3 linked regions of the Homo sapiens genome follow. The protein of the gene in region 1 interacts with the protein of each later gene in a pairwise test. Each region holds a gene or a part of one and is shown on either strand. Other genes may lie near its edges.

The links. The genes of interacting proteins can lie anywhere in the genome.
Region 2: the proteins of FAM161A (region 1) and PPP2R3C interact in binary tests that used the Homo sapiens proteins (3 or more experiments, as listed by UniProt).
Region 3: the proteins of FAM161A (region 1) and TXLNB interact in binary tests that used the Homo sapiens proteins (3 or more experiments, as listed by UniProt).

The regions. Positions count from the first base shown.
Region 1 is NC_000002.12:61,850,818-61,858,520, forward strand, and holds the start of FAM161A (protein FAM161A), read right to left. Parts: upstream 3,244-7,703; 5' UTR 3,225-3,243; coding exon 3,042-3,224; intron 1-3,041. UniProt on the Homo sapiens protein: Involved in ciliogenesis.
Region 2 is NC_000014.9:35,118,731-35,127,090, forward strand, and holds the start of PPP2R3C (serine/threonine-protein phosphatase 2A regulatory subunit B'' subunit gamma), read right to left. Parts: upstream 3,261-8,360; 5' UTR 3,230-3,260; coding exon 3,172-3,229; exon of another isoform or gene 3,109-3,171; intron 2,099-3,108; exon of another isoform or gene 2,097-2,098; intron 1-2,096. Other genes in the region: PRORP (mitochondrial ribonuclease P catalytic subunit isoform 1 precursor), read left to right, coding at 4,516-5,501, 8,005-8,052. UniProt on the Homo sapiens protein: May regulate MCM3AP phosphorylation through phosphatase recruitment. May act as a negative regulator of ABCB1 expression and function through the dephosphorylation of ABCB1 by TFPI2/PPP2R3C complex.
Region 3 is NC_000006.12:139,288,739-139,296,967, forward strand, and holds the start of TXLNB (beta-taxilin), read right to left. Parts: upstream 3,261-8,229; 5' UTR 3,183-3,260; intron 176-3,182; 5' UTR 162-175; coding exon 1-161. UniProt on the Homo sapiens protein: Promotes motor nerve regeneration. May be involved in intracellular vesicle traffic.

The DNA.
Region 1 (7,703 bases):
TCATTATAGGCTGTTCATTTCTTTCCCAACATTTCCCATCTTATAGTTATGTGTCTGTTCATTTTTTGTTTTTTGAGATGGAGTTTCGCTCTTGTTGTCCAGGCTGGAATACAATGGCGTGATCTCGGCTCACTGCAACCTCCACCTCTCGGGTTCAAGCGATCCTCCTGCCTCAGCCTCCTGAGTAGCTGAGATTACAGGCATGTGCCACCACGCCCGGCTAATTTTGTATTTTTAGTAGAGATGGGGTTTCTCTATGTTGGTCACGCTGGTCTTGAACTCCCAACCTCAGGTGATCCACCCACCTCAGCCTCCCAAAGTGATGGGATTACAGATGTGAGCCACCGCGCCCGGCCCTGTTCATTTTTAATTGTCTGATTTCCCTCACCAGACTGAAAATTCTGTGAGGATGTGAGCTATATATACACTGAATAGTTAATGACTAGCACTTAATAAATGTTCAATATTTGTTGAAAAGATAAGGTTGCCCCATTAGGAGTGAGATTTTATTTTTTCTTTTTATTTATTTATTTTTTTGAGACATAGTCTCACTCTGTTGCCCAGGCTGGAGTGCAGTTTTTGCATCTCAGCTCACTGCAACCTCCGCCTCCCGGGTTCAGGCAATTCTGCCTCAGCGCCCCCTAGTAGCTGGGATTACAGGCGCGTGCCACCACGTCCGGCTACTTTTTGTATTTTTAGTAGAGACCGGGTTTTGCCATGTTGGCCAGGCTGGCCTCAAACTCCTGACCTCAAGTGATCTACCTGCCTCAGCCTCCCAAAGTGCTGGGAGGAGTGAGATTTTAATTGCGAATTACAGAATACTGCGTTACCTGTGTCATCATCAGTCATATAACAGGATATGTGGACCAACATCTCTGACTAAGGCTAGATTCAAGGAACAGGCATCAGTGCCCAATATGGGCACTGCAAGGGGGGTGCGTGTGTATGCCAGAGCTGGGAGGGTGTATAGGGATGGTGCAGGGGTTGGGGGGTTGGGGGGCAGTGTGGGGTGGGATGAGTGGTCTGGCTTTGGCAAAACCAAAGAGCTGAAAGAGGCCTATTGTGATGGGTGGTTCTCAAATCAATCTTGTGGGTTAGGTATAATATTTGACTTTACTACATTTTATAGATAATAAGGTTAAGGCAAATTAACCTTTAAAAATCAAGATGGAGACCCAAGCCAACCAGTGAAGAAAGCAGAGCCTATTTCCTGCACTCTTCCTGCCTTCTTAATGCCTCTTCCCCCAGCCTGTGCCCCCTGGCTATCAGGCCCACTGTGGCAGCTTACCCAGCTTTACTTTTGGATCCCTCATGTGTGGTGGTCTCAGAACAGTACCAAACTCTTAAGACTTGGCTTCCTTTTTTTTTTTGTAGGATCCTGTCCTTTCCAAACTAGATTATTGTATAAACTGATCCCTCCTAAGGTAATAACAGTTTCTAACACAAATTTGCAGTTTAACAGGGCACTGTGGAAGCATATCTGCAACTTAGAAGTGACTGACTCCTTTACCACAGCAAGCCAAAGTTGAGTTTAATCTTTGGGAAGGCACACAAATGACACTCCCACTGGCAACTCATTTACATAGATTGCTCTTTAGAGGAGACACACATTCTTTCATTTGGTTCTCATAGAGCTGAGATGGGAAAAAAGAGACAATTATTATAGTTATTTTACAGATAAGGAAACTGAGGTTTAAGGAAATTATGTCCTAACACCACCTAGGAAGTGGCAGGGAATGGATCCTAATACAGAACTCTTCAATCCTTTTTCTCCATCACGTTGCCTTGTTGCCTACTGAAAATTGTGTTGAGGGGTAGCTTCATCATGAACAAAATCGGTCCTAGCACTCTGATCCTGGTTCATGTTCAGGGTCTCAGTCTGCCTTACTCTGGATAACTTCAAGTTGTTTGTCTGTTGGTGAAAGATTGGTCACAAAAGGTGTTGCTAAAGATGTTCTCATTAACAATTTTACTGTAGATTAAAGAGATCAGAATTCCAAAATATCCAGTGATTTCAGTTAGTCCTCAATCATAAGTTTGGTGTCTGAGAAGCTTTGGACACATGGTATTAGGAAATTTTTTCTATCTGCAGATTGCTAGTTTAAATTCAAGATTCCCATCTTTTTTTTTTTTTTTTTTTTTTGAGACTGGGTCTGAGATCTCAGCTCACTGCAACCCTCACCTCCCAAGTTCAAGCGATTCTCCTGCCTCAGCCTTCCGAGTAACTAGGATTACAGGGGCGCACCACCACGCCCGGCTAAATTTTGTATTTTTAGTACAGACGGGGTTTCACCATGTTGGTCAGGCTGGTCTCGAACTCCTGACCTCGTAACCCGCCCACCTCGGCCTCCCAAAGTGCTGGGATTATAGGCACGAGCCACCGCGCCCGGCCAAGATTCCCATCTTTTAAGTGAATTGAGCAGATGGCAGACCCTGCCCTCTACCTGCTGGACTGGTGTCCACAACAGATTTAACAATGAAAACTGATCAGTGAAAAGGCCGTCTCGCTGTACCCTAAAGAGCTGTTTAGGAAACACTGAAACCTCAGTGATTTGCTTATCTGTATCCGTGTCTGATTTAGCCAGTGAACACGTGATGGTTTTAAACACACATCTTTAGAGCACTATGTTGAGATCCGCTTATAACCAAGATCTTAAGGTAATAACGAAACACACCTGACAGAACAGTTTTCCTCAAATTACTATATATAGCCAGATATATCTCTATATATCCATTCCCGAGATGCTGGAGAGTAGAGAGTAAAATTCTATACTTTGCACTTGCCAGAAGCAGAGTAACATAAATGTTGTCTAGGAAGCTTTTACAACAGACTGGTGAAAATTAAAACACTTTTCAACGCCTCGATTTAGAGTAATTTTCGTGAGCGTAGAGAAGGGGCTGGGCCAGGACCACCAAGTAGGGACTATGTGCACAGGGACCCGCGTTTACCAGCCTGCCCTCAGCTGGGCGGGGAACCGGACAGCCCTCAGCCTGCACCCAGCCCATGCGAGGTCCCAGCCCAAGTCCCGCCCCAGTATTACCGATGCCCCAGCGGGCTGAGCCACTTTCTCCTCCTCTTCGTCCTCCAAGATCGCCTCCGCTGCCGCCAGGGCCTTTAAGGGGTCTTCGCGTTCGTACTGGGCGACCCGCGCTCCAGTGATGGGATTTACCGGGGTCTGGAGACTGGAGGCCACCAGCTTCGCCACTCGGTGGGAGGTGGCCATCGCCCCGCCTCCGAGGCCTGAGCGCCTGCGCTGGCCCGGGACGGGAAAGCTGGTGCGGCCCCTGGCAACCCGGGGGCGCCTAGCTAGGGAGCCGGTTGCTATGGGCGCCGTAACTGGGGACGCTACAGGAGCCGCCAGGGACCAAAAGTCACGCAAAATCCACTCAGGCTGCCAGAGACCCGAGTCGGGTGCTTACTGGATCATGGCAGTCAGTACCGAGTCTGTTGGCTGGTTCCGAAGGTTGGCAGGCTGAACAGGGCACTTATTCCACTCCTTTGCGTCTAACCGCCTGAACGCAGACTTCTCACATTATACAATGAAACAACTGCTTTTGTGAAGAAAAGAACGCTTTTTTATTAACTGCAATAACATGTTAGAAGGAGACAGTTGATGGAGGAGACGGCGGCGGCGGAGGAAAGCAGGGCGTGTTACTGGGTGGCGGTCTCAGAAGAGTGACAAGGTTGGCGTCCCGCTACCTAACATGTCTCCCGCGGGGGCCAGAGTGGGAAGGAGGGCGGTACATTCTACTCTGATTGACTTGAGGGCTAGCAGGAATCCACCAATCAGAAGGAGGCTCCCAGTTGTCCCTCTCGCTTTTTTCTTGACATGACCAATAAAAGCCCAGAGTTGGGTGGCGCCTGACCCTCCCACTAATGAGTGATAGTGCAGGTATTGTAAACCTGGCGTTTGCTTTGGGTTCTTCAGCTTGAGAGTGACAGGATTGAACGGCACAAGTGCCCAAGAGTCACCACAGACACATCCATCTCCCTCATCCGTATCTTCTCTTCCCACTCGGGATTTGGACGCATCAAATGGCGCCTTCCCTCTGCACCACGTGGCAGTAAGAGAAGCCAAACCTCAAAATAGCGGACGTGGTGCAGTCTCAGACATCTGCTCCCTGAGCCCCTGCTTACTGAGGCCGAGGCTGCCGCCCCCTATCTACTCCCTATCTACCCCCTCTCTATCCTTTGCCCTCCTCCTGCTCCCCAGCCCTACGACCGGCCCCCTCCGGTCAGTATTTTCCTCGTTATGCGCTGCACATCGTCGAGAACCCGTCTCTAAGGTCTGAGCCCTTACCAAACCTTTGTTCTCCTGTCTGGGTGTGAGCACCTACAAAGTCTCCTACGTCCCCACTTCCTTCAGGCTGCTCTTGGTTTTAGCTGAACAGTTGCTTCCCATGCTGGAACAGATGCTGACTGGGTTCTAAGCAGAAGCCAGAGCCAGAACCATGAGATATGCACCGCCAGGTGTGGCCAAGTTTCCAGGGGAGCAATTTCCAGTCAGACACGGCAGCCAGTTTTGTGGCTACAAAACTGCCTCAGCCTCCGGAGTAGCTGGGATTACAGGCGCACTCCCGGGAGGCGGAGGTTGCAGTGAGCCGGGATGGCGCCACTGCACTCCAGCCTGGGCAATAAAGCAAGACTCCGTCTCACCACCACCACCACCAACAAAAGTATTGATAAGGAATTATAGCAGATGAATTATAAATAATGAAATATCCTATTCTCTTTACTGTAAATTCCTCATAGACAATTGCTTCTCTCAGAATGCTTTCGTTGGTTTATGCTGTACTCCTGTATTTGTGGCCAACTTATGGTTGCAATTGTTTAACAACCTAGTTCCAACATGAATGTTGGTTAATATTTTTGTTTTTATTTGTGATTAAGATGAGAGTGACATATCCAAGATCTATGTCAGAATTTCACTTGTCAATGTTATGAGCAACTTCTTTGCTGAAATAGATAATCATTTTCTAACACTGGAATAATTTTTCTTAATTTTTTCTGCAAGTCACAATGTAAAGGCTACAGATAACACAAACTTTTAAGTTTACTCTGCATTAATATTTTCCACATCCGTTTCTTAAGTTTAAATGTCCAATGTTTAGCTTTTGCTGATTTCCATGATGTCAATATTCCCATCATAGCCAATTTCAAGCCACCAATGTGACATCACTTAATAAGAATTTGAGAAAAGATGTCTAGTAGCACACCATTATATAGTATTTCCACCATACAGATACAGTAGATGCAAGGAACATAAAAGAAAGTGAAGAGTTTTAAGAAATTATCTTTGTTTTTGACATAATTTATTGTAATTAACAAAACAATTTTTTTTTTTTTAAGATGGAGTCTCCTTGTCACCCAGGCTGGAGTGCAGTGACGTGATCTCGGCTCACTGCAACTTCCGCCTCCCAGGTTCAAGCGATTCTCCTGCCTCAACCTCCCGAATAGCTGGGACTACAGGTGCCTGCCAACACGCCTAGCAAATGTTGTATTTTTAGTAGAGGGCAGGGTTTCACCATGTTGACCAGGCTGGTCTTAAAATCCTGACCTCAGGTGATCCGCCTGCTTTGGCCTCCCAAAGCACTGGGATTACAGATATGAGCCACCACGCCCAGCCAAGTTAGACATTATAAAAGAAAAATAACTAGAAAAGCCTTTTTAGTTGGGAAATTTAAAACTCTTCAAAAAACAATTTGTGCATTACAGAAAAAGTCATGGCAGAAATTATCTAGAGAGTCAAATAACAACAAAAATACAATGTGTCAAAATGTCTTAAATGTAAAATGGTGCAGCCACTTTTTAAAAGTTTAGGCCTTCTTTCTCCCACCGTCCCTCATGTTCTTCCTTTCCATCTTGGGCCTGGCAGAATGGCTCCTGCAAAGAAGGGTGGCAAGAAGATGAGCTGTTCTGCCATCAACAAGGTAGTGACCCAAGAACACACTTGGGTCACTAGCTCACATCCATGGAGTGGGCTTCAAGAAGCATGCTCTGTGGGCATTCAAAGAGATTCAGAAATTTGCCATGAAGATGGGCACTCCAGATGTGTGCATTGATACCAGGCTTAACAAGGCTATCAGGGCCAAAGGAATAAGGAATGTCCCACACCATGTACATGTGCGATTGTTCAGAAAACATAACAAGGATGAAAATTCACCAAACAAGCTCAATACTGTGGTTACCTGTATACCTGTTACCACTTTCAAAAATCTAGATAGTCAGTGTGGATGAGAACTAACTGCCAATTGTCATATATGTCAAATAAAGCTATAAACCCGCTAAAAATAATTGTGACGGCTCCTCTGAAAGTTGAATATACAATTACTATATGACTCACTCCTAGGTATATACCAAAGATAATTGAAAACATGTTCACACAAAAACTTGTGCAGTGTGGAAGAAAATGAAGTAACTAAGGTGAAGGCTTTCTAAAGTGGAGTCAGGAGATTGCTAGGGGATTGCATTCACACCTGCTAAAAAGTCAAACCACCGAATAGACCTGTAGAAACAACTGAAGTCAGTAAGTATCTGCCAGCCTTCATCATCTCTCAGCGTGAGTACCCTAATTAACCAACCAATCAGAATGGGTTTGAGATTTAAGAGTTCTACCCAGCCAATGAACTGCCTCTGAAAACTTCTTGTGGGAATCCCCTATTTAAAAAACCCTCTCCTGTGCTTGCCTTATGAGACACTATTCAGGGCTGCTCTGATTCACTGTACGTGAATTGCAATTCTTTGTTTCTCAAATAAATTAAATGCTATTTCCTTTGACCTCTGTGTCTCAATCTTTTTTCTTTTTTTTTTTTTTTTTTTTTTTTTGTCGCCCATGCTGGGATGCAGTGGCATGATCTCAGCCCACAGCAACGTCTGCCTCCCGGGCTTGAAAGATCCTCCCATCTCAGCCTCCAGAGTAGCTGGGACTGTAGGCGCGGGCCACTACACCCAGCTTATTATTATTATTATTATTTTGTAGGGTTTCACTTATGTTTTCACTTATGTTGCCCAGGCTGGTCTCGGGCTCAAGCAATCCGCCCTCCTCAGCCTCTCAAAGTGCTGGGATTACTGGCATGAGCCACCATGCCCAGCCTCGATCTTTGTTGTAGTTAACACAAATGTTCAAAGCAGCATTAATAGGAGCCAAAAGATGGAAACACTTCACATGTCCTTCAGCTGTTGAATGGATAAACAAAATGTGGTGTATGCATATAATGAAATGTTACTGAGCCACTCCCCCAACAAGTGGGCTTTCCCTCTGGTCCAGGAGGTCCAGTGCACTTTGGGTTAGGCAGCAATCTCAGAGCTCAGAAGCAAAATGACCTTCCAAGAAACAAGTGCAAGACAAGATCATTGGTTCAGCAACAAATAGATGCTACTGAAGGAGCTGAAATTTGCAGGATGCCTAGAAAAAAGGCAGACATAAGCAAAGTAAATTTGGAGGCTAATAAAGACTTAGATAACAATATGAATAATGGAAATCCTTGGGTTTGAAGAAGATGCCGTGATTGAGTTTATATTCAACCAGGTGGAAGTGGAGACCTGAACCAAAATGGAAGTTATTCCTTGCATCTCAAGTATAACATCATCATTGTATTAGGTCTCAGCAAAATGAACATCCCAATGTCACACTGCACTCCCTTATGTGTTTGGAAAATCCAGACTCCAAAATGATACAAAGCAATCTGACTGGGTTTTTGAA
Region 2 (8,360 bases), on another chromosome or scaffold:
GCAAACTTCACCTCCTGGGTTGAAGTGATTCTCCTGCCTCAGCCTCCTGAGTAGCTGGGATTACAGACACTTGCCACAATGCCCGGCTAAATTTTGTATTTTTAGTAGAGAGAGCGTTTCACCACGTTGGCCAGGCTGGTCTGTCTCCTGACCTCAGGTGATCCACCCACTTCAGCCTCCCAAAGTGCTGGGATTACAGGCATGAGCCACTGCGCCCAGCCAAGTACAGGTAACTTCTTTGAGAAGTTTTCCTATGAAGAGTGCAGAGAAATGCAACAGAAGCTGGAGAGGGATGTGGGATCAAATGACTTTTTTTTTTTTTTTTGAGATGTAGTCTCGTTCTATCGCCCAGGCTGGAGAGCAGTGTCGTAATCTCAGCTCACCGCAACTTCTGCCTCCTGGGTTCAAGCGATTCTCCCGCTTCAGCCTCCCAAGTAGCTGGGATTACAGGTGTGCACCACTGCGCCCAGCTACTTTTTGTATTTTTAGTAGAGACGGACTTTCACCATGTTGGCCAGGCTGGTCTTGAACTCCTGACCTCAAGTGATCTGCCTACCTCGGCCTCCCGAAGTGTTGGGATTACAGGTGTAAGCCACAGTGCCCAGCCCAAATGAATTTTTTTTAAGACAGGGTCTGGCTCTTGTCACCCAGGCTGCAGTATAGTGTCATGATCATAGCTCACTGCAGCCCCAAACTCCTAGACTGAAACAACCCTCCCTGCTTCAGCCTCTCGAGTAGCTAGGACTACAGTGGTGCACAACCACCCGGGCTAATTTTTTACTTTCTATTTTTGTAGAAACGGTGTTTCACTATGTTGCCCAGGCTGGTCTCAAACTCCTGGCCTCAAGCGATCTTCCCATCTCGGCCTCCCAAAGTGCTGGGGTTACATGAATGAGCCACCGAGCCTCCCAACACCACTACCCCCGACCACCCACCTTTTAAAAAGATGGGTGATATTAACAGCACGTTTGTGCTGGTGTAAATGATCCAGCAGAAGGAAAATCTGATGATGTAGGAAAGAAAGGAGGAGGCTGGAAGGAAGTCAGTGAATACAGGGAAAAGAATGCAATCTAGTGGTGGACTGGAGGGACTCTTAAATAGGAGCATGGACAGTTCATCTTTTTTTTTTTTTTTTTTTGAGACGGAGTCTCGCTCTGTCGCCCAGGCTGGAGTGCAGTGGCACAATCTCCGGCTCACTACAACCTCCGCCTCCCGGGTTCACGCCATTCTCCTGCCTCAGCCTCCTGAGTAGCTGGGACTACAGGCGCCCGCCACCGCACCCGTCTAATTTTTTGTATTTTTAGTAGAGACGGGGTTTCACTGCGGTCTCAGTCTCCTGACCTCGTGATCCGCCCGCCTCGGCCTCCCAAAGTGCTGGGATTACAGGCTTGAGCCACCGCGCCCGGCATCAGTTCATCATTTTAACAGTGAAGCCAGAGTGTATGGGCAACTAACTGTGGGGTTGTGGGGCTGAAAGAAATGTTAAGGGGGACAGGTGATGTTCTCCTCTGACTGCTTCTCCTTTTTTTTTGAGACTGAGTGTCGCTCGGTCGCCCAGGCCGGAGTGCAGTGGCACAATCTCGGGCTCACTGCAAGCTCCGCCTCTCGGGTTGAAGGTATTCTCCTGCCTCAACCTCTGGAGTAGCTGGGACTATAGGCGCCCGCCACCACTACCGGGTAATTTTTTTGTATTTTTAGTAGAGACGGGGTTTCACCGTGTTAGCCAGGATGGTCTCGATCTGCTGACCTCGTGATCCGCCCGCCTCGGCCTCCCAAAGTGCTGGGATTACAGGACTGAGCGACCGCGCCCGGCCGACTGCTTCTCCTTTCTTAATGAGATATATATTAAAATACAAGTTCATCAGCTTAAAGTAAGAAGCGGGTAGGACAGACTGCAGGTGTAGGAGATGAGAAGAATAGTGTAAAAGAGTGTTGCCTGGGTGCGGCGGCTCACGTCTGTAATAGCAACACTTTGGGAGGTGGAGGTAGGAAGACTGCCTGAGGCCAGGAATTCGAGACCAGCCCAGGCAACATAGCAAGACCTCATCTCCACTAAAAATAAAAAATTAGCCGGGTGTGGTGGCGTGTGCCTGTACTTCTAGCTGCTCAAGAGGCTGGGGTGGGAAGATCCCTTGAGCCCAGGAAATCGAGGTTGCAGCAATACTTCACTGCGCCGCTGCACTCCAGCCTGGGCAACACAGGGAGATCCTGTATCGGAAAAAAAAAAGTGTATTTAGGAAAACACAGATTGGCAGTTTGGGAGATGAAAATTGAATGTAGGAGAATGAACGTCCAGGAAAACACGGTAGACATGACCAAAACACCTTCTTTAGATTAGTGGACTTGTATTAAAAGTGAGATAACTCGGCGGGGCGCGGTGACTCACGTCTGTAATTCCAGCACTTTGGGAGGCCGAGGTGGGCGAATCACAAGGTCAGGAGTTTGAGACCAGCCTGGCCAATATGGCGAAACCCCGTCTCTACTAGAAATACAAAAATTAACCGGCCGTGGTTGCGCGCGCTTATAGTTCCAGCTACTCCAGAGGCTGAGGCAGAAGAACCGCTTGAACCCGGGAGGCAGAGGTTGCAGTGAGCGGAGATGCTGCCACTGCACTCCAGCCAGCCTGGGCGACAGAGCAAGAGACTCCGTCTCAAAAAAAAAAGTGAGACAACTCACCAAGGTTCTGTTTTTCTCCAGCCACTTTCAACAGCCCTTAGTGCGGGTGTGGAATAGGAAAGGTAGATTTAACGAGGTTAGTTAATAAGCAATGTGAAGGAGAAAAATAAAAGGAAAAATGGATTATGAAATATAAAATGGATTACGAGGGAAGCAAAAAGCGTGACAGTAAAAAGGCAGGAGGACAATTATAGGTCCTGGTGGGGTTCAGGCGTTGTTGGAGCCGGGGTTCCAAGTTATTCTTCACAAGTTTAGATTAAGACCATGGAAGTCAGTGACTAAAGCTAAGTTTTTCGTTCCTCTAGATTCTGCCCCAGGAAAGTTTGGGTCAAACCTATCGGGATCCTTAAACCACATTCCACTCCGCCTCCTTTGTCGGGAGGTTTCACAGAAGCGGAAAAGGCGGCTCCCCCTTGCTCCTCCTCCCCACCTCCCCCCTACCTCTAGGAGTTTAGGGCCGGGCCATCCCAACGGGCTGCCCCTCCCAAAACTCACTGTTTGGACAGGTGTTGGGCGTCGCTAGGCGCCGACGAAGAACTTCTTTCCAGTCCATGGCCGACTTCCGCGCAGCAGCTTCTGCATTTGCTGTTTCCTACCTGCTCCACCCCTACCAGCTCAGGCGTCAGCACCGCCAGGCCCCGTAAAGGTTAGGAAGGCCGTCCAACCACCATCTTGATCGAGGGCGGAAGTCTTGGCTAAAGAGGCAAAAACAATTACTGTCACTGCCGCGGAGAATACCGCTACCACGCTGACTGGGGGAAAAAACTATGAAAGAGATGGAAAATGGTTCTCCTTCAGAGGCGACCCAAGCTCACCAAGCCGGATTTTAAAGGCCACGATAAGCCCGCGTTTTCCTTTATCGTGTGCCTTTGGCGCGTGCGCACCACGTGACCCAGGAGTTCATTAGTTCCGGCTTGAGGGAAGCGCCTTCTTTCACAATTTCTTTTCATTGTTCATTGCGGATATCTGGAAGCCTTCCAGGTCCCCTGAATGTAGTAGACACTTCAGCAGCCGTCTCCTACCCCTTTTGCCACTAAATGCTTCAAAACTGCCTTTTTTCCTCGCCGCCGGGCCAGGCGGAACGCCTAAGTCCGGGTCAGTCTCGTCCGTCGGTCGGGGCTGGCGCGGTGCATCGTGGGCACTGTAGTTTCCGCCGCGTTTATGGCCGCGTTAAGTCTGAGTGCCGCTTTGAGTTGTTGAATGAAGTGAACTTCATTTGTCAGCGTTCGGTACGCAGTCTAGGCAGCGCCCTTCCTGTACCTCTCTTCCTTTCCTGAGTCGTTGGCGCAGCTGACTCGCCACCTCCTCCCTCCTCGTCCCCCCACCGGAGGAGTTTTGCGGTCTGTAGAGAGCTATGCAGGGTGAGGGCCCCTAGACTTCGGCTTTCGCCGCTGTTGGTGGTAGGCTGGAGTTGGGGGTCCCTGGATACGGTTTTGGCTTTACACCCCCTTTCCAGCAAGCTTCCCGTGGGAATCTGTTCCTTTTCAGGACAGCTGTGATCCACGTGAGTAAAACTGGGCGTTCCGTCTTGTGCTTTTTCCTCAGGTTCATGAACTGGAATGTAAGAGGCACCAGAGGATTCCTGCTCTGTCCCCTGGTTTGCGGCTTGCGACGTTGGACATCCCCGGATTGTTGTTTAATAGAGAAAACTCACCTGCCTTCTTGCTTTTAAGTAGCCCCAAAAGCAGAACCTTGATTTGTCTGTAAGGAAGAAACACAAACCTTTTAAAAAGTTCCACTTCGACTCTGCACCGCCGACCCCCAATCTCTTTAATTTTGCCATAGAAGAGGGGTTTTTTCAACATCTCTCTCACTATCTGGTGCTGATCTCACTGCATAATGACTTTCTATTTGTTTGGTATTCGAAGCTTTCCGAAGCTTTGGAAGAGCCCATACCTTGGGCTAGGCCCAGGGCACTCTTATGTCTCGCTGTTTCTGGCAGACCGCTGTGGCATCAGGAACCAGCAGAGGTTGTTTTCTCTTAAAACAATGTCTCCACAGAATACCAAAGCAACGAATCTGATTGCCAAGGCCAGATATCTCAGGAAAGATGAGGGCAGTAATAAGCAAGTTTATTCTGTTCCTCATTTTTTTTTAGCTGGAGCAGCTAAGGAGAGATCACAGATGAATTCTCAAACTGAAGATCATGCCTTGGCACCTGTGAGGAACACTATTCAACTCCCAACACAACCTTTGAATTCAGAGGAGTGGGATAAACTTAAGGAAGATTTAAAAGAAAACACCGGAAAGACCAGTTTCGAAAGTTGGATCATTTCACAGATGGCTGGCTGTCATAGCTCTATAGATGTGGCTAAATCTCTGCTGGCATGGGTAGCAGCCAAAAATAATGGTATTGTAAGTTACGATTTACTGGTCAAGTATTTGTATCTCTGTGTCTTTCATATGCAGACATCTGAAGTTATTGATGTCTTTGAAATTATGAAAGCCAGATATAAGACTTTAGAACCTAGAGGTTACAGTCTTCTCATCCGGGGATTGATCCATTCAGACAGATGGAGAGAAGCATTGTTGCTGTTAGAGGACATCAAAAAAGTTATAACTCCTTCAAAAAAGAACTATAATGACTGTATCCAGGGAGCTCTCCTTCATCAAGATGTAAACACAGCTTGGAATTTATATCAGGAATTGCTAGGTCATGATATTGTTCCTATGTTGGAAACTTTAAAAGCTTTCTTTGATTTTGGAAAAGACATAAAGGATGATAACTATTCAAATAAACTACTAGATATTCTTTCATATCTAAGAAATAATCAGCTGTATCCAGGGGAGTCATTTGCACACAGTATAAAAACATGGTTTGAGAGGTAATTTTGGTTTTTTTATATGTATGTTTTTATTCTTTAATTTTTTTTTTTTTTGAGACAGGGTCTTGCTCTGTTGCCCAGACTGGAGTGCAGTGGTGTGTTCATAGCTCACTGTAACCTCAAACTCCTGGCCTCAAGTGATCCTCTCGCTTCAGTCTCCTCAGTAGCTAAAACCACAGGCATGTGCCACCATACCTGGCTAATTATTTTTAATTTAATAACTTTAAACCTCAAAGTAGCCATTCTTTTTTGTTGTTAGTTGCTGAGAATCACTCTTCTGATTATACTTTTTTCCATCTCTTAGTAAGATTTATTTTCTCTTTACGACAAAATTTTCTCTCTTTAAAAAAAGTAACAACATACATAATTTGTGCTAATCTTTACCCATCACATAAAACTGAAATTATATAGCAGTTTTAATTTTTACATTTTTTTCCTTTTGGAAGGATCATTAATTTTGTTTTCTTAGGCATCTAGTATGATGTGAGTACTTAATACTACTTATGGCCACTGTTCATAGCAAGAAAAGAATATAGCATTTGACTAGAACTGTCTCTGGCCATATTAGTATTTTCAGAAGTTCCTCTGAAATCTAGCGACTGAGATAATATGCTTATATTTATTCTGTCTACTCTCTCCCTTTTTTTTTTTTTTGAGACGGAGTTTTGCTCTTGTTGCCAGGCTAGAGTGCAATGGCATGATCTCGGCTCATTGTAACCTTTGCCTCCCGGGTTTTCTCCTGCCTCACACTCCCGAGTAGCTGGGATTACAGGCATGCGCCACCATGCCCTGCTAATTTTCTATTTTCTTTTTAGTAGAGACGGGGTTTCTCTATGTTGGTCAGGCTGCTCTCGAACTACCTCAGGTGATCCGCCTGCCTCGGCCTCCCAAAGTGCTGGGATTACAGGCGTGAACCACCGCGTCCGGCCTATTCTGTCTACTATCTATAGTTCATCAACTTGGATGATTAGAGTGGACAGGGGGATATTGATCAAGCCTTATACGTAAGCATTACAATGGAAAATCTTAACCCTTCCAGTTTGTTTTGGACCTTTCTATCATTTGGCTGCTGTCTCTCTAAAGCTCTCTCCTTTGGTTTGCTTTTGCTTTATTCATGTTACTGGGTACATACCTGTTTATTGCTTTAGTCTTTTTTAAAATTTTTGAAAATTTTTACTTATTTTTTAAAATTAATATTCTTTTTTTAAGAGGTGGGGTCTTGCTGTGTTGACCAGGCTGGACTCAAACTCTTGGCCTCAAGCGATCAGGTGTGAGCCACCATGCTTAGTCATTATTTCTTCATTAATTTGCTTCCTAAAAATTTGTTCCTTCCCTCTGTTTTTCTCTTGCCTTTTTTTCCCCTATATCATGTTTACGGAGCTTTGAAGCAGTAATTATGCTTAATTATCTTAAACTTACTGAAGATCAAGGGAGGAGGAGCCCATTTGTGAAAATCTTTGAATACCAAGGAGTTTGGATTTTATTCTGTTATCAAGAATGCTGGATTTGGCTGGGTGCTGTGGCTCACGCCTGTAATCTGAGCACTTTTAGAGACTGAGGTGGGAGGATAGCTTGAGGCCAGGAGTTGGAGACCAGCCTGGGCATGGTGAAACCCTGTCTCTACAAATAATACAAAAATTAGCTTGGCATGGCGGTGTGTGCCGGTAGTCCTAGCTACTTGGGAGGCTGAAGCAAGAGGATCACTTGAATCTAGGGAGTCAATCAAGGCTGCAGGGAGCTGTGATGGCGCCATGCACTCCAACCTGGGCGACAGAGCAAGACCTTGTCTCAAAAGAAAAAAATAATGCTGGAATGGAGTTTTACAAAGGCAGTTGCCAAGTGAGAAGAGTAGATAGGAGAGGGATTAAGATTGAAAACAGGGAGATCTGCGTGAATACAATTTTAGGTTTAGGTGAGAGATGATGAGAATTAAGAACTGAGGAAGGAGAGAAGGCAGTAGAATCATAAGAACTGATGGTAATATGTGGAAGGGGAAGGAGGAAAGGATACATTGATTGAACAAATACATCAATACATAGTTTTTGAATGCTTCCAAATAGGCTAGGCATTGCGAGTGTTTTATAAAATCTATTATGACATTCTCAATTTAATTGGGAATACAGTACCACACAGTGAAATAACAGTGGTGTGTAAGAGGTAAATTACTCTCGGCAGGAGCAATTTCTGGCAGCTTTATGGAGAAGGTAAGAGTTGAGTTTGGTTTAGAGGTTATGCTACTAAGGTCAGCCGCTTTTGGTAGACTTGAAGATGAGAGTTATTTGTTGGGAGGAGAACCACAGGGAAGAAGGAGATCCAGAGCAGAGTACCAGCAGCTTCTTAACCCCATCCAGGATAGCAGCCACTTTTTAAATTAAACCATTCTACAGAAGTATCTTGAACTTTTCGGACTTCTTGCTTATAAGAGTTTCCAAATACCATGAATATCTTTCATTTCAGTAGGAATCTAACCTTCTCATGATTTGGTTTTGCAATCTTTTCATAGTGTTCCTGGAAAACAATGGAAAGGACAATTCACCACAGTCCGAAAAAGGTGAAGACCAATGTTTATTTTTAACTTGTTTGATTTTGGTTTAGTAGGTTTTGTTGCTATTAATTGAAAAATATTTAAGAACACCTTAAGGGTAGGATAATTACAAGTTTGTAATTAGAGTATCTGAGGAAAAAAACATACTTTGCATACAGAGACTTAGCAGTGCCCAAAATGTTTTTCCTGTGAGTACTGTGAACCTATATGAAGTCTTAGAGATGTTTTTTCCCTAGAGGTTCCAGACCCAGTTGTGTTTTAGGATTTATTTATTTATTTAATTCACCAATATGATATTCCAGAGGATAGGAATT
Region 3 (8,229 bases), on another chromosome or scaffold:
TCGGGGTGCACACTTGCCTCTTTCTCTGGTGGTTGGACTGGGGTTGGAGAATCCTGGCCATCTTCCTTCTCCAGGCCATTGTGACTGGGTAATGATGAACTGTCACCTGGAGGTGTTGACTGTCGTTCCGCTGAGAGCTGTTCAGAGTGATTAGCCTCCATCTTGGGAGTAGTATCTAGTGGTAAGCACAGTTAGGCTTTATGTAGCTAACCTACTTGCTACATATCAATGCTACATTTCAATGGTAAGGATATCCCCCAAGTGAATACCAACTAATTATAGTCTCTAACGTAGAGAAAGGCAATGTCCTTTCACAAACCATTGATGTTACTAAGGGAGGAGACCACCCCTCATATCGTCTTATGCCCAATTTCTGCCTCCAAAGAAGAAGTAAAAACTAAAACGCAGACATGAAATCCACAGGCAGACAGCCTGGTGCCGCGCCCTGAGCCTGGTAGTTAAAAATTGACCCCTGACCTAATAGGTTATGTTATCTATAGATTACAGACATTGTATAGAAAAGCACTGTGAAAATCCCTATCCTGTTTTGTTTCGATCTAATTACCGGTGCATGCAGCCCCCAGTCACGTACCCCCTGCTTGCTCAATCAATCACAACCCTCTCACGTGCACGCACTTAGAGTTGTGAGCCCTTAAAAGGGACAAGAAATGCTCACTCAGGGAGCTCGGCTCTTGAGACAGGAGTCTTGCTGACGCTCCCGGCCGATTAAACTGCTTCCTTCTTTAACTGGGTGTCTGAAGGGTTTTGTCTGCGGCTTGTCCTGCTGCATTACAATTATTAAAGTAGGGACAGTGGAAAGTTGTTTTTCCAAATCAAGTCACACTGCTGGCATATTTTTGGTTTTGATCTTCAGTTTTCAGTAGCATTCCTTATTATTCACATTAAGAAAGTAATTCATGCTATTTTTCTTTGTGGCCATATTTGTCATTTTGCTTACACTAGTCAGTTTGTGTTACCATTTTCCTGTATAATTCTATGTAGATTAACAATCACTGGGGGTACATGACTGTATATATTTAAAATGTTTAAATATAAAGTGGTATTAGTTTTCTTTCAAAGTTAAAATATTTAATAGAAGAGCCATTGAATTTATTTAAATAACTCATAAGAATAACATCTCTAAGCTCTATTTGATCCATAAATCAATATTTTGCTTAGTGTGAATATTTTGATGTAAATGCATTATTACACTGGATAGAGGAGACATTTCTCACTTTTCTGGCATTTTCTTTTTCAGATAAGCAACACGAATGCTTTTTTTGAGGCTTAAACTGGCATCATTTTTAGATTAAGACAGGGAATGAGGGAAGGTATAAATAAATAGACAAAGTAGTATGGAAACACGGGCCAGGTGCTGTGGCTCATGTCTGTAATCCCAGCACTTTAGGAAGCCGAGGCGGGTGGATCCTTGAGGCCAGGAGACCAGCCTGGCCAACATGGTGAAACCCTGTCTCTACTAAAAATACAAAAATTAGCCAGGTGTGGTGGCGGGCACCGGTAGTCCCAGCTACTTGGGAGGCTGAGGTATGAGAATTGCTTGAACTTGGGAGGCGGAGGCTGTAGTGAGCCAAGATCGTGCCACTGCACTCCAGCCTGGGTGACAGAGCAAGACTTCGTCTCAAAAACTAAACAAAACAAAAGCATGATGATACTTATAACAACAATTCCTTAAATTTCTATAATACTCTTTTATTCCAATATATAAACCAATTTTTTAAAAGAGAAAAACAGATTACAACTTTCTCTTCTAAGTCAGGAAGCTCTAGAAAAACTTAATGATTTTTAAGAAGTAGCAATGTTTCATAAACAAGGAGGAGACCAACTCGAGAAATAATTCAGCAATAATAAGGGCCCTTAGGAAAGGGTGAGAGATGGTACTGAGTCAGAGATTCCAGGGTTTCTGACTATTACCACTTCTAGAGTTGCAATAGATTTGGTTTAGGCCTTTAAGTTATGGTGCATTTTATTTGTAAATAATATTTAACAGTGATGCTGCTAAATAGCAGCATAAAAATGTGGCAAGATCCTCATAATTCACAGGTTTTGCTGTTGTGGTAACATGAAAGTGAAAACAAAAGCATACTGTTCTACAACTGCACAGCTTCCTTTTCCTGTTCTCAGGGCAGTAGATGTCAATTGAATGCTCAGACACCAACAAGAACAGAAAATTCAACACACAGATGTTGCCACTGACTTGTGATGCTCACCAAACACTCATAACTTAGAGGAAGTACTTTTTTTCTTTCACTGGTTTGAATTCACCAACTTGATTATCAAATAATGCAGCAGTTTCATTATTTTCATCACTGGGATTTCTTTTCCTGACCTCACTTGTTGATTGCACTCATCTATATATAACTTAGGCCTCCCCTGAACACGGAGAAAGACACACGGCACCTGCTGTCCAGCCAGAAGTTATTTTAAGCTATTCTAAAATGAGTCATGCCGTTTAGCACTTCATCCTTGAAAATCAAGAGAATCGTTTTTCAGTCAAATTGAAAACAGTAAACATTTAGTGGCTTAAATCCATACATGGGTTTTAAAGTCGGGGAGACTATCTTAGGATGAAATAAAATCTCAAGTAAAATGAACTTCAAAATAATTAATTTAAGATAAGCTGTCCATAGGAGTTTTACTTCGGTTAGTCTAAATGCAAGTGGCTGTTTGTATTTGATTTATTCTTCATGAGATGCCACAATCATTGATTTTTTAAATTCTTAATTCCATGGCTATTCTTTAAACTCCTGTTCCACATTTACTTTAAAACAGAACAGTCATTATAAAGCCCAGGACAATTCAATTCCCAAAAGTAGCCTCAAGACAAGTTAACAAGAGGGAAAAAAACAAAGTCAGAGAACTTTGTTACTTTTCAATCATCCATTTTATATTATGTGGCAAAGAAATTATTTCTAACTTTTATCTTATATAAACTTTATTGCCTTATTTTCCCCTCCCCAGGGAGAGAACTTTTCACTTGTGTTGGCTATTCCAGATGACTATCACAGACACATCCCTCCCTAAGCAACACATTTTATTTATAAATACAACAATGAAAAGTTCTCCAACAGTTCACTGGCAATCTCAAAGTTGCAAGTTTCGAACACCACAAACCGCACCCTATACCTTCTCACAGGGCTTGGGGGAGTGTTTGTCATACTTACCAGAAGGCAAGAAGCTAAGCAAGAAGAGAGAGGAGAGGAAGGAGGCAGGAAAAAGCAAGTCAGAGCTGCAGCAACAGCAGGAGAGGGCGGGCTGGCTGTGTTCTTACAAGGGAGAGAGAAACCCAATACACACACACACACATACACACGTGCACGCACGCGCGCGCACACACACACACACACACACACGCCACAGGCACTGATGGAGGCAGCAGTCTGGAGGAGGTGGGGGTAGGGAAAGGAACATCATATGACACAGCAAGGGGAAAATACACCCAAGCTTCCCTAGCTGTTGCCAGGGGAAATACCTTAGCAGAGAGAAGCAGCTGGAAGATCTCATTAGACTCTCCATGTTTTGTTTGTCCTTTCGGAAATTTAAACTCTGAGTATATTACCCCCGTTGCAAATGCAGTCTTTCACCATTGTTGTCCTTTTTGGGTAGAGATCAGTTTTTCTTACTTCTTGGGTTATCTCCAGTGTGGTGGAAGATTCATCTTCTTTTTCTTCTTCTTCTTGCACTAGCTTAATTAGTGTCAGGTTTCTTACAGGAATCATGGAAAAAGAAAAACAATGGCATAAGAACAGGGAGGTGGTGGAACCATTTTAATTCTGATGTCATTGTTTGGTTTGTTTGCAAAGTTTGAAATAAACATGTAGATGGTGATTTTGGAGCTGAACTGAGTATAATCTTCATGCACGTGGTAATTGGTGTGACCTTGGAGCACAGTCTTTCCCAGGTAACTCTTCCCATCTCAAACAAACCCTCAGGGAAGCAGTCTGCTTTTTCTTCCTTAGTTGGTGGCTTTCCCACATTTTGTAAATCCTCAACATGCTCCTTGATCCTCCTCAGAAAAAGAAATTCCTTCTGATTCACCATAAAATGCCTGTCTATTAATTTACATCCATTTGCCTTTTATTTTTCTTTCTGGAGCTTGTGTTCCCATACTTCCAAAGCAGATTCCTCCATCGGTTTCTGCTCTGGGGACAGGCTAGGCATAGTGGCATCCCTTGTGGGAGGCAGAATAATGCCACCCAAAAGATCTCCACGTCCTACTCCCTGGAACCTGTGAATATGTTTCTTTACATGACAAAAGAGACTTTGCAGATGTGAGGAAGGATCCTGAGGTAGGGAGGTTATCTTGAACTACTGGGTGGGTTCAATGTAATCATAAGGGTATTTATTTATTTATTTATTGAGACAGAGTCTCGCTCTGTCACTCAGGCTGGAGTGCAGTGGTGCAATCTCAGCTCACTGCAACCTCCCGGGTTCAAGCGATTCTCCTCCCTCAGCCTCCCAAGTAGCTGGGATTACAGGCGCCTGCCACCACATCCAGCTAATTTTTGTATTTTTAGTAGAGACGGGGTTTCGCTGTGTTGGCTAGGCTGGTCTCGAACTCCTGACCTCATGATCCGCCCACCTCGGCCTCCCAAAGTGCTGGGATTATAAGCGTGAGCCATTGCACTCAGCCTCATAAGGGTCTTTATAAATGAGGGAGGAAGGCAGTAGGATTGGAGGCAGAAAAGGAGATTTGATGACCTCAGCATAGGTCAGGAAGCTTCTAGAAGCTGGGAAAGGCAAGGAAACAGATTATACTCTAGAGCCTCCAGAGGGATGCAATCCTGCGACATTGATCTTAGATCAAAGAAATTCGTTTTGGATTTCCGACCTCCAGAAATATAAAATAGCAAACTTATGTTATTTTTAAGCTGCTAAATTTGTGATAAGATGTTATGGCAACAAAAGGAAATGAAAACATCCCACCCCCAGTTTTGTCCTACTTATTCTCTGAGTTTAGGGGAGGCATAAGTTATATATAGATGAGTGCACCCAACAAGCAGAAGTCAGGATAAAGAAATTCCAGTGTTGAAGACAATGAAGCTGTTCACTATATTATTTGATAATTAAGTTAGTGAATTAAAATTGATGAAAGAGAAAAGCACTTTCTTCTAAATTAATGAATACTTGGTGAGTGCCACAAATTGGGTGGCATTCCATCCTGGATTGTAGCAAACTGACCCGATCACATCTCTTAGTAAATATAAACAAGTCAGTGCTTTTCAAATTTAAATAATGTATAGACTCACTTAACAGAATAATTTAAATAATGTGGAAATTATTTGAAGGATTATATTATTATTTGAACCTACATGTACTAAAATGAAAATAGGATAAATTCCTTATGCTTACAGTAGTTACATAAATTTTAAAATGTATACATTTTAAAGCCTACAAAATCAATAAATGCGACTCAAATTAATAACACTACTTTTATGTGACAGATATTGTTTTGCTGAACTTAAATTGCTGCTTGCAACATGAATACTCTATTGACTGCTGGGTTTTTTGAGTTTCTGGTACTCTTCTACAATGTGGTTTGGGAATTTCCTCAACACTTGATTCATTCAAATTATTACATAGTTTTTATTCATATGGCCTGCTATGATTTCATGGGGCTCTCATTTGATACGGCTGCATCATTTACTGCTTGCTATGGTCTGAATGTTTGTGTCCCCCCAAAATTCATGTGTTGAAATCATAAACCCCCAGGTGATGGTATGAGGAGGTGGGGCCTTTGGGAAGTGATTAGATTATGAGGGTAGAGCTTTTATGAATGGGATTAGTGTTCTCATAAAAAAGGTCTGAAAGAAACCCCTTACCCCTCTGCCATGTGAGGGTGCAGTGAGAAGAAGGCTTTGTACGAGGAAGTCACCAGACACAGAATTTGCCTGCACCTTGATCTTAGACTTTCCAGCCTACAGAACTATGAGAAATAAATTTCCATTGTTGGCCCGGCACGCTGGCTCACGGCTGTAATACCAGCACGTTGGGAGGCCAAGGCAGGTGGATCACTTGAGGTCAGGAGTTCAAGATCAGCCTGGCCATCATGGTGAAACTCCATCTCTACTAAAATACAGAAATTAGCTGGATGTGGTGGCGCATGCTTGTAATCCCAGCTACTGGGGAGGCTGGGGCAGGAGAATCATTTGAACCCAGGAGACAGAGGTTGCAGTGAGCCGAGATTGTGCCACTGCACTCCAGCCTGGGCGACAGAGCAAGACTCTGTCTCAAAAAAAAAAAAATTCCATTGTTTATTAGTCACTCAGTTTATGTTATTTTGTTATAGCAGCCTGAATAGATGAAAGCCCTATTCTTTCTCATTGTCCTGCAATTATTAAAGTAGTGCTAATTGGCCCTAACTTGAATAGATACACACATGATAGTGGAGGTATCAAAATGACACTTACACAGTGGCTACCCAGATCCAAAACAGGCATATGCATTTTCAAGTATAATTGAAAATAATACAAACATGCAAAACTGTGACTCCCAAGAATTTATCTGTGGCCTGATAGGGGCCCAAAAAACTGGGATAAGTTAATAAAGACAGCAAATTAATAGAGCTCAGTGTTTTATTGTCAAATCAACGTTAAAAGAACACAAATTACACGTCTAAGGCTTTGAACTTTTGTAAAGAATACACTTATTTTTTGAAAATACATCTAACTGTTTACGCAAATATCACAGGAAAATAATTTGAAAATTCAAATGATGCTAAAAAGCTTAACCCAAGAAACAATAACTCCTTGTTCTTCCACCTTCCTCCAACCTTGTGATGCTTTCTAGAGGTAATAACATAAAACTGTTGTAGATATTTTTTGGGGGGGGGATTTACTTTATCATTTTTAAATAAAATGCCTTGATTTTATTTACAACTCACCAATTTTTGACATTATTTATTGTCTTCTCATAATGATAGATGAAGATTTTCATTGTTTACACTCCCCTTTTTCTCCTCTCTTCATTTTCCCCACAAAATTATATCTCAATGTTTAATTCATATCCTATATTGTCTTTATTGAAATAATGTTTACTGTTAAACCAGGTAGAGCATTGTGATTATAGTTCTATTCATATGCAACTTTCTGTTTTTCCTGGAGTTGATAATTTCTTTTTCTTTTCATTTGCCTAGTATTGAGAATACTCTGTCTTCCCAAACAGCGTAAGAGGCCTATAAATCTTTCTATACAATATTCCCAAAGGTCAAATAATTTATGTATTCTAGTACTTTTTTGGAGATATGATCCCCACATACAAACACTCTTAGAACCTTGACCCCCCCCTCCTCCAGCCTGGGCTGGTGGCTTCTAGGCCTGCTACACAGCTGTGGTCCTGGCACTTCCCCTGCTGTCGTTCTGGGAATTCCCTTTACCTCTCTCCTGTTGCCTGGCTCCTATTCTTCCTCTTTCTTGGTTTAATTCCTCATTTAGAAAAACATATCCTCTAGTGGCTTCCTGAGAAAGCATTTATGGGAGACTGTGTGTGTGCCTGAAATATCTTTTTGATACCCTTATACTTACTTGATTGATAGTTTGGCTAGATGTAACCTTTTAGGTTGAAAATAATTTTTATTAAAAATCTTAAGACATATTATTTTCCCCTGTCTTTTAGTTTTTAATGTTTCTTAAAAATGCAAGGTCATTCTTATTCCTAATCCTTTGGATATGATCCATTTTTTTTCCTCTCTAGAACCATTTGGCATCTTTATCATGATGTTCTGAAGTTTCACAATGATTAAATTTGATGTAGATCTTTTTTTCATTTATTATTTTGGATGCTTACTTGGTTTTAATGTCTGTAGACTCAAATGTTTAACCTCTTCTCTTTTTCGTCATTGTTGCTCACCCTTGTCCTCCTCTGAGCCTCATATCGCTCAGTTCAGAGCCTTTCTGGTTAAGCTTCTTCAGAGAACAATCCTCAGGTATCCTGAAAGGGGCTTGATTTTGAAGGGTGGCATTTAGGACCCTTTGTTCTAACTGTTCCTTCTCCTAACTGGAAACAAACAAGCCAGGTGTGATGGTGCGCACCTGGTAGTCGCAGCTACTTGGAAGACAGGGGCGGGCGAGAGGATCATTTGAATGCAGGAATTCAAATCCAGCCTGAGCAACATAGTGAGACCCCATCTCTGAAAGCAAACAAACAAACAAACAAACAAAGCCAACAGCCAACAAACCATCCTACTATTTGTAGTCTCCTGCTTTACTGCCA